Linked DNA regions of Homo sapiens. The protein of the gene in region 1 purifies or fractionates together with the protein of each later gene. This does not show direct contact. Each region holds a gene or a part of one and is shown on either strand. Other genes may lie near its edges.

Region 1 (3,910 bases):
ATCCATCTGTCTGTCCATCCATCCATCCACCCACACATCCATCCATCCATCCACCCACACATCCATCCATCCATCCATCCATCCATTTAATCTTCTCTAATGGGAACACACCCATGTGCTCTGCAGGAAACTGCTTGTTCCACTCTGCATTCCATTCCATAAGAAATGGACACGTTTATGTCAATAAATGCTGTTAAACAAAATGACTGAGGTCCTGGTAAATTGAGGTTTGGGGTTTGGGTGATGGAAAACCATCCCTGAACACCTGTTTCCCTGGGTTCTGTATCCATGGGGTAAAATTAGACTTTGTCTTGGTGACTTCAGGTGTAATGAACTTTGCAGATCAATAACATTTGCAATAAGAAAGATGGTTTCAAAAATATCTTCAAAATCAAAAGTAACCAAATAAATGTTTATGCCATTTTACTATTTCCTGCCTCCCTAATCAGGCTGGGGTTCCTGCAGCCAGGGACTGTGTGTCCCCCACATCTTCCATCAGACTGACAACTCCTCAGGCAAGGCTGTTTCTCTCTCTCTCTCTCTCTCTCTTTCTTGCTCTTTGCTGCCCTGCCACCCCAGCCCTGTGGACACTAGAGTTCTGGTTTATGTGCCCCTTTTCCCACTCTGTATAAGAGCCCCCTGGAAGAAGAGGACCACATTACTGAGGATGGGTGTCCTGCGATTCCAGAGCAAACGGCTCTTCTCATCACCCCCAATGCCCGATATGAAGGGAACACGTCACCTGCAATTCACCACCTCTACCCCAAGCTCTAACAGACATCTCATGTCGAACAAGTCCAACAGAGAATGGCCAAGCTCCCTGCCCAGCTTGCCCTCCTGCAGCCTTCCCTATCTCTCTGATGACAACTCCATCCTTCTAGTTGCTCGGGTCCCAAATACTCCAGTGATCGTTGACCACTCTCTCTCACACCCACATCCAACTCATCAGCAAACCTCATCGGCTCTACCTTCAAGATACATTCAGGATCCAACCACTTCCCACCACCTTCCCTGTTACCCTGGGACCAAGCCATGCCATCCCTCGCTTAGATAATGGGAAGAACCTTAATGCACCATCTGATGTCATACACACTTTACTCATTTAACTTCACCTACGGTCTGTCTCCCCCAGAATATAAATGTCGTCAGAGCAGGAATCATGGTCTCTTTTGTTCATAGTTGTATCCCTATCACCTAAATGAGTGCCTGACACATAAAAGATGATTAACAAACACTTGTCAAATTAACAAATGAAGTTCTACAAAGAGCCTCAGAACAGGCTGAAGCTTGCTGTGCTGAGCTGAAAGAAGAGGGATTTTCAGAAATGAGTCCACGCTCCCAGGTCATTGCTCTGAGCTCTTTTTCAAGTTCCCTCCTCTCTGGCTCCCCAAGAATGCTTGCCTGGGGTGGCTTCTGCTGTCTGTGGAGTCTGGGCACAAGGGCCTACCCTCACCTGTTGGGGGGTGGTATTGTGTGGCGAGACGGGTGAACCTGCGTGGAAGTTATAACTCTACCACTTACTAGCAGTGAGACCTGCAGCCATGGTTCTCTTACCTGCAAAATGAGGATAAAAGTCATAATTGTTAGTGTTTTAGTGAACACAGGTGCCAGGAGCTGTGCTAATCTTCTTACACATAACTCATGTCTTTCCCACATCAACACAATGGGACAGGTACTACTGTTACAGCTGCCAACTTACACATGAGGCAGCTGAGTCACAGAGAGGTTAAAAGGTTTGATAAGGATCACAGGTGGTTATAGGCAGAGCCCGCACATAGTCAGCCCACAGAAACACTGACATCATTGTAATAGGGGTTCAGGCACCAGGAGTCTTTGGAGGGGAGGGCAGAGGCTGCTGGGGAGCTCTGGAGGGTCTCCTGTCAGCAGGTGAGTCCTGCTTCGCCCGGGGCCCCCAGTTGAAGCTCCCCTTCCCCATCTCCCAGACAGGCCTTGGGCACCTCCTCCCCTGACCTCCTGGATTGACAGCCCTGAGTGAGGAGGGTGTGGAGCCAGGAGGTGGGGACCAGGCTCAGCCAGGCTAATCAGGTCGCAGGGTGAAATTTAAAGGGAGGAGGAGGCACCAGTCCATCAGAACTCACACTTCTTCCTGGCAAAGAAGTGCCCAGGACGGGAGCTGGGGAGCCAGGGCTGATCTAGGAGGCTGGGAGCCAGGTGACAGGATGGCCCCAAAGAGAGTTGTGCAGCTGTCCCTGAAGATGCCTACCCATGCCGTGTGTGTGGTGGGAGTCGAGGCACATGTGGACATTCACAGGTAAGAGCTGGGAGGCGCTCTCCTGGCTGCAGAGAGCTGGGTTAGAGTGTAAGTCAATGGGGTGGGTGCCTGGTAGACAAGTCAGGCACGTTGGAAAGGATGCTGGCAGGAGATAGCAGAGAAGGTGGAGTTGGCTGTGGAGTCTGGAAGGAAGGAACTAGGGTCTAGTCAGGTCCTCCTTGGGGCCCCAGCTCCTGGGCACTGGGCTCAGGACATTGGCTTCAATCCCCTGGGTAAGAGTCCAGCCTTAGATTTCTAACTCTGAGCCCTGGGGTCAGGCTTTGGGGTCTGGGCCCTGCATTCTGACACCTAGGTAGAACTTGTGTGGAACATCAGATGGCTCAAGATGGGGAAGAGAACTGGTTCCCACCTCCCTCAATTTCTTGCCAAGCCCCCATCTCTTTGAGGTGAAGGGACGTGTGTGGTAGCTTGACCCTTGGAGGTCAGCCAGAGATAACTAGATTGATTCCAATCAGGAGGGAGTGGTTAGGAAATACTCGATGAATTAATATGAAGAGAGAACCTGGAGCAAGACGGCTGGGACTTATGTTTGCTGTGAGATGATGGTGATGACGCTGATTATGGTGATGAACAGTGATGATGGCGATGATGGCGGTGATGGTGGCAATGATGACATCTGAGGGGGCATCAGTAGCATTTGCTTCTCCTGTTGACCCAAATCTTTCCTGTGCTGGCTGTGTCCAGATGGGGACTCGGGGACTCAGCCTTAGTTTCCCTACCTGGCCACTAAGGGAATTGGATTTGGTGATCTCTGGTGGCATTTCCAACTCTGAGAGGCTGTCTATGGATTCCATCCCTGCTGGAGCAGGTGGGGCTGAACCCCTTGCAGATAGGGGGCTCGTGGTGGGAGTCTCCCTCAAAGAGGAGCTGGGTGCTGGGGGTCTGTTACTGGGTGAGATCTGAGCTCCTTTCTCCCTCTTGGGACTCAGCCCCTGTACCTGCTGGTCTGGTTAATGTATGTGGGGCCCAGGGCCAGCTGCCCACCTGGCCTCTGGTGATCCTCTGCTCGAGAAGCCCTTCCTGCTTCTCTGTTGGGCAGTGGTCTGTGACCCCGGTGGCAGGGCTGGGGAGGAAAACCAGGAGCCATGGAAACCAAACCTTGACTCTAAGTTGCTGCTGGGAGCCCCGCTGTGGGGGCTGGTTCTCTCGGGTCTAGGTGGCCAGCAGAGACCCCATTGTCTCTTGCCCTGTTAACATAGGCTTGCCAGATTTAGCAAATAAAAATACAGGATGCCTGGTTAAGTTTGAATTTCAGATAAAAAACAAAAAGCTTTTTTAGTATATTGCATGGGAGATATTTCTACTAAAATAATCTGCTGTTTAGCTGAAGCTGAAGTCTTTTTTTTCTTTTTCTTTTTTTTTTTTTTTTTTTTTGAGATGGAGTCTCGCTCTGTCACCCAGGCTGGAGTGCAGTGGCGAGATCTTTGCTCACTGCAACCTCCACCTCCCGGGTTCAATTCTCTGCCGCAGCCTCCAGAGTAGCTGGGATAACAGGAACCCACCATCACACTCGGCTAATTTTGTATTTTTAGTAGAGACAAGGTTTTGCCATGTTGGTCAGGCTGGTCTCAAACTCCTGACCTCAAGTGATCAACCCACCTCGGCCTCCCAAAGTGC
Region 2 (3,910 bases), on another chromosome or scaffold:
CCAGCCTGGGCGACAGAGTGAGACTGTCTCAAAAAAAAAAAAAAAAGTCAGATGAGGGCTGAGGCTGGCCTGCCATCAGGTGAGGGTGGGATATGGGGGGGACCCCAACCTGGCTTGGGTCCAACGGGTGGCTTTGGAAGCTTGGCAGGAGGCTTTGGCAACTTCTTTGGCTTCAGGATGACTGGCCAACTAGAGGAAGCCACTGCGTGGACAAAAGTGTAACGTGTCACATCAGCTGTTAACCTGTTTCCCCAACCCCCAGCTCTCAGCAGCTCTGTTCCCCACCCACCATCTTGGTTCTCATAGTCAACAGCTGGGCCATCTCCAATGGGGGTCACGTAGTTCTCTTCCTGGTTCGGTAGTGGGGGCAGTGGGGGCAGCTTGTCCTGGCTAGACGCAGGTGACAGCGGCTTGGGGCCACCTGTGCAGGGTGCAGGACCTGATGGGGAAACGTGGTCACTGTCAAGACCCATGTCATACAGGGACACCTTGCAGGTTGGCGGGGGGGTCTGTGTGCATGCCTGGAGACAGGCATGTGTCCCTGTGTGTCTGTGTGTGTGCCCATGTATAAGTCTGTGTCTGGGCCGGGCGCGGTGGCTCACGCCTGTAATCCCAGCACTTTGGGAGGCCAGGGTGGGCGGATCACCTGAGGTCAGGGGTTCAAGACCAGCCTGGCCAATATGGTGAAACCCCGTCTCTACTAAAAATACAAAAATTAGCTTGGCGTGGTGGCAGGCTCCTGTAATCGCAGCTACTCGGGGCTGAGGCAGGAGAATCGCTTGAACCTGGGAGGGAGAGGTTGCAGTGAGCCGAGATTGCGCCACTGCACTCCAGCCTGGGTGACAGAGCAAGACTCCATCTCAAAAAAAAAAAAAAGTCTTTGTGTGGCATACACGTGTACACTAATTGAATCTAGATAAGTTAAAGTGCAACGTTTGTACACACACACCTGTGGTGTGTATACGTGTGTGACTGCACGCCTGCTGAGGTGGCTGCTTTAGTCCTTGTCTACATGAGTGCGTTTTGCCCGTGTATCTACACGTGTCCGAGTTTGTGCCGGTGCACGGACGTATCTGCATTTATGTGTACACATGTGATTGTGGCATGACACAGGTGTATCTGTGCTACATAGCATTTGTATGTGACTGGAATTGGGGCACACGTGTATTTATGCATGTGTGATCTGTTGTGCCCGCACAAGTGTGTGTCACCTTCTGGCTAGGCAGGTGGCCACAGTTGCATGGATCATGCATGTGTAATGTGTGTGTGGATGTGGCACTTGGGGGTCCTTGCATACGCCCAGACCAGGGAAGACCAGACAACCCACGCTACATTCCTTTCTAGTGTGTTCTCTGCCTCCTCTTCCCACTCCATAAACAGGACCGATTTCCACCTCTTTCCCAACACCCACCCGGATTCTCGGTCCCTGTGGGGCTACTGCTTGTCCGGGTGTACCCTCTGACCCCTCAATGCCCATTTCTACCTAAGGAGATCCTTTGGGACCATCTGCAAAGACCCACTCTTCTGGGAAGCTTTCCCTGCTCTGCCCCCATCTTCTCCCGAACTCTAGGCGCCTCCCCCGAGCCCAGGTTTTTCCTCCACCCCAAATTCAACCCTACAGGATGAGAGTGTCTGTGTTTAGCTCTGTCCCAAGCTGGGACCCCCGCCCCCTCCCCCACACACACACCCTGACGGCAGGGTCTGAGTCATTTCTGTCCCTGCAACTTTGGGAACATCAGATGCAGGAGGTGCAGCCACCAAACTGACTGAGGGGGCGTGGCTGAATGCGGGGTCCTCGATCCCTCCCACCTCGGCCCGCGGGAAGGGGGCGTCACCTGGGCCCGGAGCGGAGGGCGCCACCCACACATTCTCGCCATTCTCCTTATCGGCTTCCACGTAGCCTGGAACAGAGAGGGCGGCCTGGAGGAAGCGCGGCGGCCAGGGGCGGCCCGGTCCGTCCGAGCGGGGGCGGGAGAGGTGAGCACTGGGCCCCCGAACTCCCCGAAGGGGCACCCACCTAGCACCTTCTCGTAGTCCTCGTCTAACAGGAATGGCACCAGCGCCTTTTTGGTATGCGACACGAAATAGTTGACCACGGCGTCCAGGGAGGTGCAAGAGAACTGGGGGCAGATGGGGGAGCGGTCAGGCTGCTGGAGAAGGGACGCGGACCCCACAAAGTCACTTCTAGGGACTCTGGCCCAACGCTCACCGGCTGTTCCACATCGATCACGTACTTGGGGCCCTCCCGCTTCACCTTGTAATGCCGGACCACGTGCGTCCTGCACCAGGAGAAAGCGAGTGAGTGGCTCAGCCCAGGCTCCCACACCGCCCCTCAGGGAAGGCCCCGCCCCAACTCCAGGCTCCGCCTCCAATAGAAACAGGTCCATACTGGCTCCGCCCCCACAGAAGGCCCCGCCACTGACTGGTTCCACCCCATAAAGGACCTAAGCCCCGTTGACCTCCCGGAGCACTGACTGCCCGATCCCAGCACTGCTCCCAGCGGGGACCAGGCCCGACCGACCCACCCCCACAGAAGACCCCACCTCTAGTCTTGGCACCACCTCCAGCGAGGGACCAGGCCAGACTGACAACACCCTAGGAAAGGTCCGCCCCTAATTCTGGCACCGCGCCTAGGGAGAACCAGGCCCTAAAGACCCCGCCCCAGGTAGGCCCCGCCCCCTGTAATGGCTCCACCCCCAGGCACCGACTCTACCTTCTACATCGCCTTGCCCAACCCTGGACTGGGCTTGAGAATTTGGCATAAGGCTCTGACTTCGCCCCCAGGGCTGGCTCCGCCTCCATAGCCCTACTCAACTTCCAAAAAGGATCACGGCCATGACTCCCCCCCGTAGATCCTGACGCTGCCCAAAGAGCCCATTCCCATCCCTGGATTTGACTTCATCCCCTCCAGTGGCCCAGACCTGGCCCCTGCGTACCTGACGTTCCGGAGGGGCCGATCCTAACCTAGGAGTCTGACTCCACCTACAGGGAGTCCCAGCTCCTAACCCAAGACCTGGCTCTTCCTGCAAAGGAGTCGGCCTGGGCTCTACCTTCTTCCCTAGGCATTAACCCCATACCTGGGGCAAGGCCAGCCTCAGGATCCCACGACCCCGGAGCTCTGATCCCGCCCCCAGCCCTCCCTGCCCAGCTCTGACTCCGCCCCCATGCTCCCCTGCCTAGCATTGACTCCACCCCTCCCCCAGCCCGCCCACCCCAGCTCTGACTCCGCCCCAACACGCCCAGCGTAGCTCTGATTCCGCCACCAGTGTACTCTGCTCAGCTCTGACTCCACCCGCCCCAGCTCGCCCAGCCCAGCTCTGACTCCTCCCCCAATCCGCCCAGCCCAGCTCTGACTCCTCCCCCAATCCGCCCACCTCAGCTCTGACTCCTCCCCCAATCCGCCCAGCTCAGCTCTGACTCCGTCCCCAGACGCCCGTCTCGGCTCTGGCTCCGTCCCCTGGCCTACCCACTAGCGGGTCGGACTCCGCCCCTGCTTCTGACCACGCCCCCGCGCCCACCCTCTTCCCACCCTCCTCCCACCCAGGGCTCTCCAGACGCGCATGCGCACCCGTTGTGCATCTGCCGCGTGGTGACCGACACGCCGTCGGCGCCGTCCCCGCTGGGCCGCAGCAGCAGGTTCCCGCACTCGGGGTAGCGCTCCAGGAGCAGTTGTGCCTCCAGCCGGCTCACCTTCAGGAAGCACCTGTGGCGGGCCGCGTCACCCACTCGGGACCCCGGAGACCAAGTCCGCTCTTCTGCACGTAAACCCTGCCTCCTCTGAGACCCAGCCCCATCCCCATCCCCTAGGCCCAGGAGACCCTGCCCTGCTCTCCAGACCCAGGCCCCTCCCACGGAGACCCAGTCCGGCCTTCCAGGCTCCTAGTTTTTGTGGGGTTTTTTGTTTTTTTTT

Evidence for each region.
Region 2: the proteins of PADI1 (region 1) and STAP2 purify together in Homo sapiens (affinity purification with mass spectrometry; 2 studies listed by BioGRID and IntAct, with this or other methods). This does not show direct contact.

What each region holds. Positions count from the first base shown.
Region 1 is NC_000001.11:17,203,038-17,206,947, forward strand, and holds the start of PADI1 (protein-arginine deiminase type-1), read left to right. Parts: upstream 1-2,090; 5' UTR 2,091-2,180; coding exon 2,181-2,272; intron 2,273-3,910. UniProt on the Homo sapiens protein: Catalyzes the deimination of arginine residues of proteins.
Region 2 is NC_000019.10:4,325,107-4,329,016, forward strand, and holds part of STAP2 (signal-transducing adaptor protein 2), read right to left. Parts: intron 3,704-3,910; coding exon 3,569-3,703; intron 2,280-3,568; coding exon 2,210-2,279; intron 2,121-2,209; coding exon 2,018-2,120; intron 1,902-2,017; coding exon 1,836-1,901; intron 440-1,835; coding exon 290-439; intron 203-289; coding exon 110-202; intron 1-109. UniProt on the Homo sapiens protein: Substrate of protein kinase PTK6. May play a regulatory role in the acute-phase response in systemic inflammation and may modulate STAT3 activity.